2 separate regions of the Homo sapiens genome follow, and region 1 is linked to region 2. Evidence: fine-mapped expression QTL. A gene starts in region 2. The other region holds a variant in brackets. All regions are shown on one strand. Distances are from middle to middle.

What was found. PIP is the estimated chance that this variant, and not a neighbour inherited with it, causes the effect.
Region 1: its variant is fine-mapped to the expression of AKT3-IT1 in thyroid (GTEx, PIP above 0.99).

What each region holds. Positions count from the first base shown.
Region 1 is chr1:243,601,517-243,606,898 of GRCh38, forward strand. The region is part of intron 8 of AKT3 (AKT serine/threonine kinase 3); the gene reads right to left. Among named protein-coding and RNA genes, the nearest start is that of AKT3-IT1, 190 kb to the right of the region's middle. The variant C/T (reference allele first, on the strand shown) is at 2,103.
Region 2 is chr1:243,791,422-243,796,803 of GRCh38, forward strand. It overlaps AKT3-IT1 (AKT3 intronic transcript 1), which reads right to left and starts at 2,979. Exons shown (of 2, transcript NR_046761.1): 1 at 2,839-2,979; 2 at 1,784-2,159. The region is part of intron 2 of AKT3 (AKT serine/threonine kinase 3); the gene reads right to left.

The DNA.
Region 1 (5,382 bases), 190 kb before region 2:
TTAATGAAGTTGATCATAACAAATGACACAGAAATTGCATTTCTATGTATTTACCCAAGAAGATTAAAAATATATATTCACACACAGATTTGTACTGGAATATTCACGAGCTTTTATTCTAATAGGCCCAAAATGTAAAGAACCCAAACGTCTATCCAGGGGCAACTATATAAACATATGACTGTACATCACACAACGGAGCAAAGCCATAAAAAGAAACAAACTACTGATATATGGAACAGTATCTATAAATTTTAAAAGTATTATGCTAAGTGAAAAATGGAGAACACAAAAGCCTGTAAGTATGTTTTCAGATTATAGTTTTTGATATTTAAATACTGTTTTGTGTCACTGCCCTCTTTTTCCTCCTCAGGGTTTCCAATTATACATATGTTGCTTCTTCTGTTTTCCCTCCCTTGAAATACCCACTCTGTGGTAAGCCAGCCTTTGTGTAAGAAGTTTGACTACCTTGAAATGGCCATGCTCTGCCATAACCACATGGAAAGGAATCATGTAAATACCCAGATGCCTGGCAGGCCCCTGCAGTTCCAGCCACTTGATCTGAGATTTTAGATTTGTAAGCAAGCATGTTACATGTTGAGGCTTGTAATAACATCTCCTAATAACTAAATTCAATGCATTCAATTACATTTAATGCAGTGAGATACTGGTTTAACCATTCATTTTTTAAAAATGTCTTTGAATTATGAAATTATATACTAAAAATGCTTCCCGACTTTACATTGCCTTTAGATGCTAATGTAAACATTGTAATGCATCCTTCTTGACTTGGGAATTTTGAAAAAGCATTGGGTGAAAAACAAAATTCTGATACAACCTACATAATATATTAATAACTAAAATAGTTAGCAAAGAAATTAGCTTGTCAGACACCTGACAATAAAGATGTTTATATACCTGAAAACTTTGTAAAATTTTAAAAATCATCACTATGAATATGAAATGATAATTAAATTAATTTAAAAATCACCCAGATCACACCTCCGTAAATTAGTAAGGAGAACTAGAATACTGACTACTGGTGCTTTTGTCTTATGTGAATTTAAAATGAGATAATTTTGGTTCACTGATAACAAAATGCCAGCCAAATGAGAAATCTGAATAAGCATGAGAATCTCAAGAATGGCAAGAACCTGAAAGCCGTATTGCAAAAAAATCAAATACATGTTATCAAAGAAATTAATATAGAGTTTACAATGAACTAAGTATGGACAAAAATAGTAGTACATAACTGAAACTGTTAGCTTCATTACAACCTACATAAAGAAAATAGAGGAATGTGAAGAATTTATCAGATGAATAGCATTTCTACACAATGATTTTCCTTTACTCCCCTAATGAATCTTTAACTTCAGGAAACTTCAGACTTGAGAGAGATTTGCAGAGGTCCAACAAATAAGCCTGAAATAAATGAAGCTATGAGTAAGATTTTGGAAACAAGTCCTAAGTAGAGACTTCCTAAACCAAAGAAAACAAAAACACCTCCTTAGTCAATTTTGTCTACTTTATTCTCCCAGGATATTTTTCTGCTTCTCATGTAAATTTAGTAACATTTAAGGAATAAAAAGAGAGCTGCCTGGATATATTAGCAGTGTGATTGGTCATATTATTAGAGAGATTTTACAATCAGTTCTACAAATGCCCCACTGAAATTGCACTGAACTCACTCTTACAACCTTGTTCTACTGGGCTCCAAACCAACCCTTTTACATTCTGTACTACAGCCAAGGTGCATACCTTGTACCAAACCAGAAAAGGAAGAATCCCTGGTAGTCTCCATAGGAACTATTAGATGGCAAATCCAATGGACAATTCTCAGTTATCATTGTACAGTATTTAATATACTCTGTTGTACCTAATCTCTCCTTAACTTCTAAGGCTTCTCTTGTCTGGCTCCTCCTGCCCAGGATCCTCCTTAGGCTTCTCTCTGCCTCTACACCTGTGCACTAGTCTCACTGCATCTACAGCTGTGTCTACAGCATGCCTTACTCTGGCATTTCCAGGCACCATCCTTGGCCACTGATGTTCTAACTGTACATACTTTCCTCACATTGGATATTTCCTCACTTCCTGGGTTTTAA[C/T]ACTGCTCATGATGCCTATTTGTATCTCTGATTTAACTCTCCCCACTCCTTGGCTGCCACACTAGGTGCCTCAAATATAGCATGATCTGCTTAAGAACTCATTCTTCTCCCTGTGTTTTCTATTTTTATAAATACTCCAGTATCCACAATTCCCCAAGCAGCAAACAGGAAATCATATGATACTTCTCTGCATATTTATTCATTAAATCCTGGTGATTCTAATAACTAAATATTACTAGAATTTGCTTCCTTCTAACACTGCTTCAATTAATAATCTTTTTTTTTTTTTTTTTTGAGATGGAGTTTTGCTCTTGTTGCCCAGGCTGGAGCACAATGGTGCAATCTAGGCTCACTGCAATCTCCACCTCCCAGGTTCAAGCAATTCTCCTGCCTCAGCCTCCCAAGTAGCTGGGATTACAGGCATGCGCCACCAGGCCTGGCTAATTTTGTATTTTTAGTACAGACGGGGTTTCTCCATGTTGGTCAGGCTGGTCTCAAACTCCTGGCCTCAGGTGATCCACCCACCTCAGCCTCCCATAGTGCTGAGATTCCAAGCATGAGCCACCACATCCGACAACCTTATCATTTTTATAAGTGAATTACTGAAAACCTTCTAACTGCAGCAACCTCCCAAGTATTTTCCTTGCTTCCACTTTTGTCCTCTCTACTTCAACCTCTATACTGCCAAGTATTCTTTCTAAACATTTCCCCCAAAGAAATTCTTCCATGATGCTCCACTGCCTTCATCTAAATGACTTGAGAGTGAAGATCTGTCTTAATGTGATTCTGACTACCTGTGCAGACTCTCTGGCTTTCCTCTGCAGAACTCTATGCATTATCCACACTGTGCTATATTCGGTGGGTGGGGGAACCTGTCTGCTCCTGTGTACTCTACACATGCCATTTTACCTGTGTAGGAATGCTCTCCTTCCCAACCTTAGTGATATAATGTATAGTTATTCTTACGTCTTAGCCTAGCAACCACTTTTTAAGAAGAGTTTCCTACTCTGGCACCCTTTGCTTTCCTTTCCTCTGCTCCTCAGGTTCATTAAAGTGCTCATTCTCTCCATGCACAGTAACCAGTATTATCAGAGCAACCATGTCACTGCAGTGTATACAAGTATTTTCTCATCTATCTCCCCAGTAAGTCACTCATCAAAGGAAAAATAGTATGTTTTCCTTATTTATGAATCTTCTGAGGTCTAGCCCACAGAAGTTGCTCATTATTTAATAGATGAATGATAATGTACTAGATTATAAAGTTAATCCATAAGGTATCAAAAATAATCAAATCACTCCCAAACATTCCTTAGAACGGTATTACACTGGAGACCAACATACTGTCATCTCTCGACATAGTTAAACCCAGGACAGTTTTCTATCTTTGGTACAATAATATAGTCTTTTTTCTTTTATTTTCTTTAGAGACAGGGTCTCACTCTGTTGCCCACGCTGGAGTGCAGTAGCACAACCATGGCTCACTATAACCCTGAGTTCCTCGGCTCAAGTGAACTTCCCACCTCAGCTTTCCTGATTAATTTACTAGGACTACAGGTACACATCACCATACATGGCTAACTTTTTTTTTTTTTTGACACGGGATCTCACCATGTTCGCCAGGCTGGTCTCAAACTCCTGGCCTCAAGCAATCCTCCTATCTCAGCTGCCCAAAGCACCAGAATTACAGGCATGAGCCACCAGGCCTGGCCAGAAAATAGTTTCTTTAAATGAACACCTGCAGTTACAATGCACTCAATGACATTTTATGTAAGTTTTGTATTTTAAAACACCAGAGTTTATATTCCATGAAGCTCTATGCATGGAAAGTAGGAAGTAACAAGGAGTAAAGAATAGCAAATTTATATCTCTCATCCTAAGGTCACTCTGTAAATACACTCATTGAGAAATTGAGAAAAAGAGCAGAATAATCACATCATTTAAATCAACTTGTCTATCTCAGCTATATCTTATTGAGCCCACTTCTTTGAATTCATATAAATTACATGCAACTATGATGAAATTCCATTGTACCAATACGACCGTAAGAAGTTAGGGCTGATTTTTCACAGCCAACATTTCTTTCACAATTCACTTTCATCAAAAATTTTTAGTGCTCCAAATACAGTCATGCATTACTTAACAACTGGGATATGGCCTGAGAAACTTGCTGGTAGGCAGATATGGTTTGGCTGTGTTCCCACCCAAATCTCATCTTGAACTGTAGTTCCCATAATCCCAATGTGTTGTGGGAGGGATCCACTGGAAGGTAATTGAATCACAGGGCTGGTTATCTCCATGCTGTTCTGCTGATAGTGAGTGAGTTCTGATGAAATCTGATGGTTTTATAAGGGGCTTTTCCTCCTTTGCTTAGCACTTCTCTCTCCTGCTCCTATGTGAAGAAGGACATGTTTGCTTCCCCTTTCACCACGATTGTAGGTTTCCTAAGGTCTCCCCAGCCCTGCAGAACTGAGTCAATTAAACCTCTTTCCTTTATAAATTACCCAGTCTCGGGCAGTTCACAGCAGCATGAGAACAGAGAATGGACTAATACAGTACATTGGTACCACAGAGAGTGTGGTGCTGCTGTAAAGATACCCAAAAATGTAAAAACAGCTTTCCAACCAGGTAACAGGCAAGGCTGGAACAGTATGGAGGGCTCAAAAGAAGACAGAAAAACGTGAGAAAGTTTGGAACTTCCTAGAGACTTGTTGAATAGCTTTGACCAAAATGCTGACAGTGATATGGACAATAAAGTCCAGGCTGAGGTGGCCTCAGATGAAGACGAGGAACTTACTGGTAAGTGGAGTAAAGGTGACTCTTGCTATGCTTTACCAAAGAGAATGGTGGCATTTTGCCCCTGCCCTAGAGATCTAAGGAACTTTGAACTTGAAGGAGATGATTTGGGGGTATCTGGTGGAGGAAATTTCTAAGTGGCAAAGCATTGAAGAGAACGCGGAGAAGAAAAGTTTGCAAAATTTGCAGCCTGACAATACAATAGAAAAGAAAAACCCATTTTGTGGGGAGAAATTCAAGCCCACTGCAAAAGTTGGCATAAGTAACAAGGAGCCAGATGTTAATCACCAAGACAAAGGAGAAAATGTCTTCAGGGCATTTCAGAGACCTTTGCAGCAGCCCCTCCCATCATAGGCCCAGAGGCCTAGGAGGGAAAAACAGTTTTGTGGGCCAGGGCCAGGGCCCAAAAGCAGGGCCCCCCAACCCGGCTCTGTGCAGCCTTGGGACATGGTGCCCTGCATCCCAACTGCTTCAGTCCCAGCTGTGG
Region 2 (5,382 bases):
GCTTCCAAAATTAAGTCCATCCTCAAAAACGCAATACGCCTAAAAACAACTCTGATTCATTATACCTTTAAACAACAGATTACTCAAACCAGAGCATTAAGTAAAATGGTTTTGTAAAAACTGTAAATATATGACACTAATAATTCAACATGTATATCACAGTATGAGTGCATATACTTTATGTTAATGAACAGAATTTAAATGAGACGAAGGATAAATGGTGAAGAAATCTTGCCCCCTTCCCTCGTCAACAATTCAGGCAAACCTAAATAAGAGGAGTCACTTATTCCAGTCCCCTTCTCTCAATAAGGAGGAGAGGAAGAGAAACATTCTGCCCCTGGGCGGCATAAAGAACAAACTGTGCTCCTGCAAGCTTCATTCAGTAGCTCTGGACCAAATGAATCAACATGTTTATCTGCTAATACAGCTGAGCTCATTTTAAAGTGTTATGCACTTAAAAGGAAACAAACTTTTTAAAAAACAAAACTAGTAAAAATTAGAAAGTTTTTGTTGTTTTAGCAAATTTAGTTAGGTTTATGAAGACCAAAAATTAACAGAATAAATCTTCTATTTTGTCAAAATGTTTATTCTCAACTGAAGAAGATTTAAGGAAACTCAGGCTCAAAAACATTTGATCTAGGGGTCAAGGACAGTCTGACTTCTTAGTTCTGCCAGCAGTTTTTTAAAGCTGCTTCCTGTACTAGGGAACGTTCACTGTTCTTGCACAAACAATAATAAGTCATTTATACAAACACCTTGGTTATTCTTTCCTTTTAAATTCACTGGTAATAACAAAGGCTACCATCATGATTCTAATAAACATTTTGAGCTTTTACCATTAAATTTCTATTAATTTATTATTTGTGGGGAAACAATTTATTCACTTAACTCAAAAATATGTCTCCAATGCTGCCAATCATGTGCCCGACATTATAGATAAAAGTCAGCAAAAGAGATACAGTCACTGCCCTCCCAGAGCTTCCAGTTTTGCTGACAAGATATTATGGAATTATACATCTATATATATAACCCGGACTATGAAAAGGGAAAAATATACCATGAAAGCAAACAACATGATCTGGCCCTGGGGGTCAGAGGATTCCTTTGGCAGTGATAATTAAGCTGAGATTAGCCTTACAATCACTAAACATGATTTGAAACACACACATTCCAAATCATCCTAGGAGTAGGAATGCTTACAGCTACATGGGGGAGGGGAGAAGAGTTTATAGGAGCCAAGGTAAAATCCATGACTTTAAAAATAAAGGTGAGAGCTTCATGTGTACAACACCAAGAGATCACTTATCTCTGTAGGAAGAAAAGCAATGGCCATTCCTAGCATACTTTCACTCAAAAACAGGTTTCGTAGCTAGAACTATTTTCCAATAATAAAGCCAAACATCAGCTATCAATCTAATAATCTCCAATCATCTCAAGTCCTCCAAACACATTAAAATGAATTTATAACAGTAAATGTATCACAAGCCTCAACACCCCGTATAAACCCAGTAATGAAAAAAGATGTCTTAAGCTTCACATATCACAGGTCATCTAATGTCAGAACAGAAACAAACTTCTAGAAATCATCTTGTAATAAAACACTTTTCACTGTGCAAATCAGGAGTAACACCCGAAGTGAAGCAGCAGCACTTACAATGTCACACATCTAGTTCAGAGTAGAACAGGAGGCTAGAGCATGGACTGCCTGAGTCCACTCTCTATGCTTTTTCTACCAGCATACAGCAGCAAATACATGACAAGAAACACACGTTGCAAATAAATAAGGCAGAATTTTAAGACACAAATTGCATTTCAAAATTTTTATTTTAAAATTTTTTTTACATATTTTTAGGGACAGGGTCTCACTATGTTGCCCAGGCTAGTCTTAAACTCCTGGCACAAGCAGTCCTCCCTCCTCAGCCTCCCAAAGTATTGGGATTACAGGCACAAGCCACCGTGCGTAACTCAAAATTTTTATACATTTTCAACTGACCCACACATGCTGCAGGCTCTAGAAAACAAATGCTCCCTCTTACCACATACCACAGAAGAGTAAAACTGAAAACAACAGCTGGGCACAGTAGCTCACACCTATAATCCCACATGCTATGGGAGGCTGAAGTGAGAGGATCTCTTGAGGCCAGGGGTTCAAGACCAGCCTGGGCAACACAGTGAAACCCTGTATCTATAAAAAAATAAAATTAGCCAGACACAATGGTGCACACCTGTAGCCCTAGCTCCTCAGGAGGCTTAGAAGGGAGGATCCTTTGAGCCCAGGAGATCAAGGCTGCAGTGAGCTATAATCGCACCACTGCACTCTGCACTCCAGCCTCAACAACAGAGCAAAACTGTCTCAAAAAAAAAAAAAAAGGGTGAAGAAAACCGACTATTTATTGACTCCCTAGGGTCTAGGAGCTCGACTGAGTAGCTCATCTACTTTAACATCCATTAATCATCACAACTACCCTCTGATTAGATATTATTCTCATTCTACTGAGACCCAGAAACATTAGAAATTTACTTATGGTTACATAGCAGAAAAATGGTAGAAGTAGGACTTGAATTCAAGTCTAAATCTAAATCCATGTAGCCATTTTACCATTAAAAAGCATTTTTTCTTTTTTTGAGACAGGGTCTCATTCTGTCACCCAGGGTACAGTGCAGTAGCACGATCATGGCTCAGCTCACTGCAGCCTCAACCTCCCAGGCGTAGGTGATCCTCTCGCTTCAGCCTCCCAATTAGCTGGGACTACAGGCGCAAGCCACCATGCCCACCTAATTTTTCTGTATTTTTTGTAGAGATGAGGTTTCACCATGTTGCCCAGGCTGGTCTCAAACTTCTGGACTCAAGCTATTCATCTACCTTGGCCTCCCAAAGTGCTGGGATTACAGGCATAAGCCACTGTACCCAGCTAGTGTTTCTTCATTAAAAAATACTATACAATGTGATTAGGTTTCCCTGGGAACTTACAAATGCCCATTTAATTGCTAATGAAACATATTTTAAAGTTTGGTCTAGGATAACTGCCATTTATAACATTATATCAAAAAGAACTACCAAGTTTTAAACAACTACTTTACAAACAAAATTTGGAACATATTCTTAAGTTAAATGTTATTCATATTTTCTTTTATAACATTCTTTTCAACCCTGCTGTCAGTGCCACCAGAAATGGGTGTTATCTACTCCTATGAAATGTTGGCTCAGACACAAGAAGAAGAGTATAATGCATGACTGCTTAAGAGAACCATAAAAATACAAGAACTACATTTTAATCATTCTGATTTCTCCATTGGTGGACAGCCCATTAACAGCTTCAACTGGGAGAGAGCATACTGCTCAAAAATAAGAACCCAGCAGTCCAAATAGAGCAAAGCACATCATTAATTAAAAGAATACCAGTTTTTGCACAACTACCCACACCATAGGACTTTCTGCTTTCTCAGCTCTGCTAAATTCTGTTACCACTCACGCACCAGGTTCTCAGCTTCCAATATTTAGTTGACGTTGTTTGCCTGCTGTCATCTCTCATCTCGTTCTCTTTACCCTCATGGATTTCTGCTTTTATATGTGTTCACTATCATTTAAGTGGGGAAGGAAATACATGTCTTCTCTGATAATACTGGAGATTTTTAAAGTTTTCTTTTGATCCCTTATGGTATCTGTTTTCTCCCAGTGTTCCAAGTATCACTCCCTCTCCACCTCTCTATGTCTACTTTTTTTTTTTTTTAATGTTGGAGTCTTCCCCCAGATGACCAATGGTGTTAGATTGTTTGCTCATATTTAAGAATAAGCCCCTGAAAAGAACTAACTGAAAGATCTGTGTGGGAAAACAGGGCTTAACGACTGGTAGAATTCACTTAAGGTACTCTCAGCAGAAAGCCTATCAGTATCTGAAGATGCTGTTATCTTCAGTCTTCCACAGGAGAAGGATAGGACAGGCTTGACTGTGCAGTTCTGGAAGGAGAGCAGAGGAAGAGAGCTAACACTTCTATAGTTCAGGCGTAGGTTTCCCTTGATCTCCTTGTTTTTTTTTTTTGTTTTTTTTTTTTGGTTTTTTTTTTTTTGAGACGGAGTCTCGCTCTGTCGCCCAGGCTGGAGTGCAGTGGCGGGATCTCGGCTCACTGCAAGCTCCGCCTCCCGGGTTCACGCCATTCTCCTGCCTCAGCCTCCCAAGTAGCTGGGACTACAGGCGCCCGCCACTACGCCCGGCTAATTTTTTGTATTTTTAGTAGAGACGGGGTTTCACCGTTTTAGCCGGGATGGTCTCGATCTCCTGACCTCGTGATCCACCCGCCTCGGCCTCCCAAAGTGCTGGGATTACAGGCGTGAGCCACCGCGCCCGGCCGATCTCCTTGTTTTAAACCAAGCAACAATCCACGGCCCCTGGTTTCAAAGTCCAGACAGCTCTTCATTAATTTTGCAAAGAATAAACCTTGTTCTCCTGAGGCCAGGGAGTTGGTAGTGAAGGGACTCACCCATCCACAAGGGCACATAGGGAGAAAATCGTAGGGGTCCACCTGTCAGTGTACACAGATTTTCCGACCAGCTCCCCTGTTTTCAGCTCCATTTCTGACCCCTATCTTCCTTAGTATCTGGTGCCTCCAAATGCTGAGACTCTTGGGAGCTTCGGACAAACACAGTACTGCATTTCTTACAGGTATTTTTGTGCACTTACAGGTACTGTGTGATTCCTCTGCAAAGTCAGTCACTACCTGTCCATCTGCTTATTTGAAAGAGGTATAGCAGCTTCTGTCTCCTGTTGTAACCTCTCCCAGTCTCTGATTTCTTTCTTCCATTTAGGCAGGGATTAGGAAATAAGAAGAGATGTACAGGTGTAGCCAATCTGTCACTTTTGGTCAGAAGCCCTGAGAGAGCTCTTTTGAAATCAGCTATCTCAGGATACTGACTTAAGGACTAAATTAGTATTTCTCAAAGTCCGATCACAGACTTGCATTAGAATCCACAAGGATGCTTGTCCACACAGCAGTCTGGGTGATTTTTGCTTTTGCTGTTACATGGAAATCAGATTAAGTCACTCCCCCACTTAAAACTTCCTAATAAGCAGCTTCTCACTCCACTTAAAAGCCAAGGTCTTTCAAAGCCTAAAATAATACGGCCAATGTATGTCTATCTCTGATCCCATTTAATACCATTCTTTCCAGGCACTTTTCTCTACTATTAATATATTCTGACAACACTGGCCTAGACCACCAACCAGTTTATTGCTATCTCAGGGCCTTTGCACATGTTCTTTCCTCTGCTTGTAACGTTCTTCTTCTAGTTCTTGCATGGCCCCTTCTCATTTTTCAGATCTCAGTTCAAAGGTGGACAGACAAAATGTGGTACATCCATATTATGGAGTGTTATTTAGCCTTAAG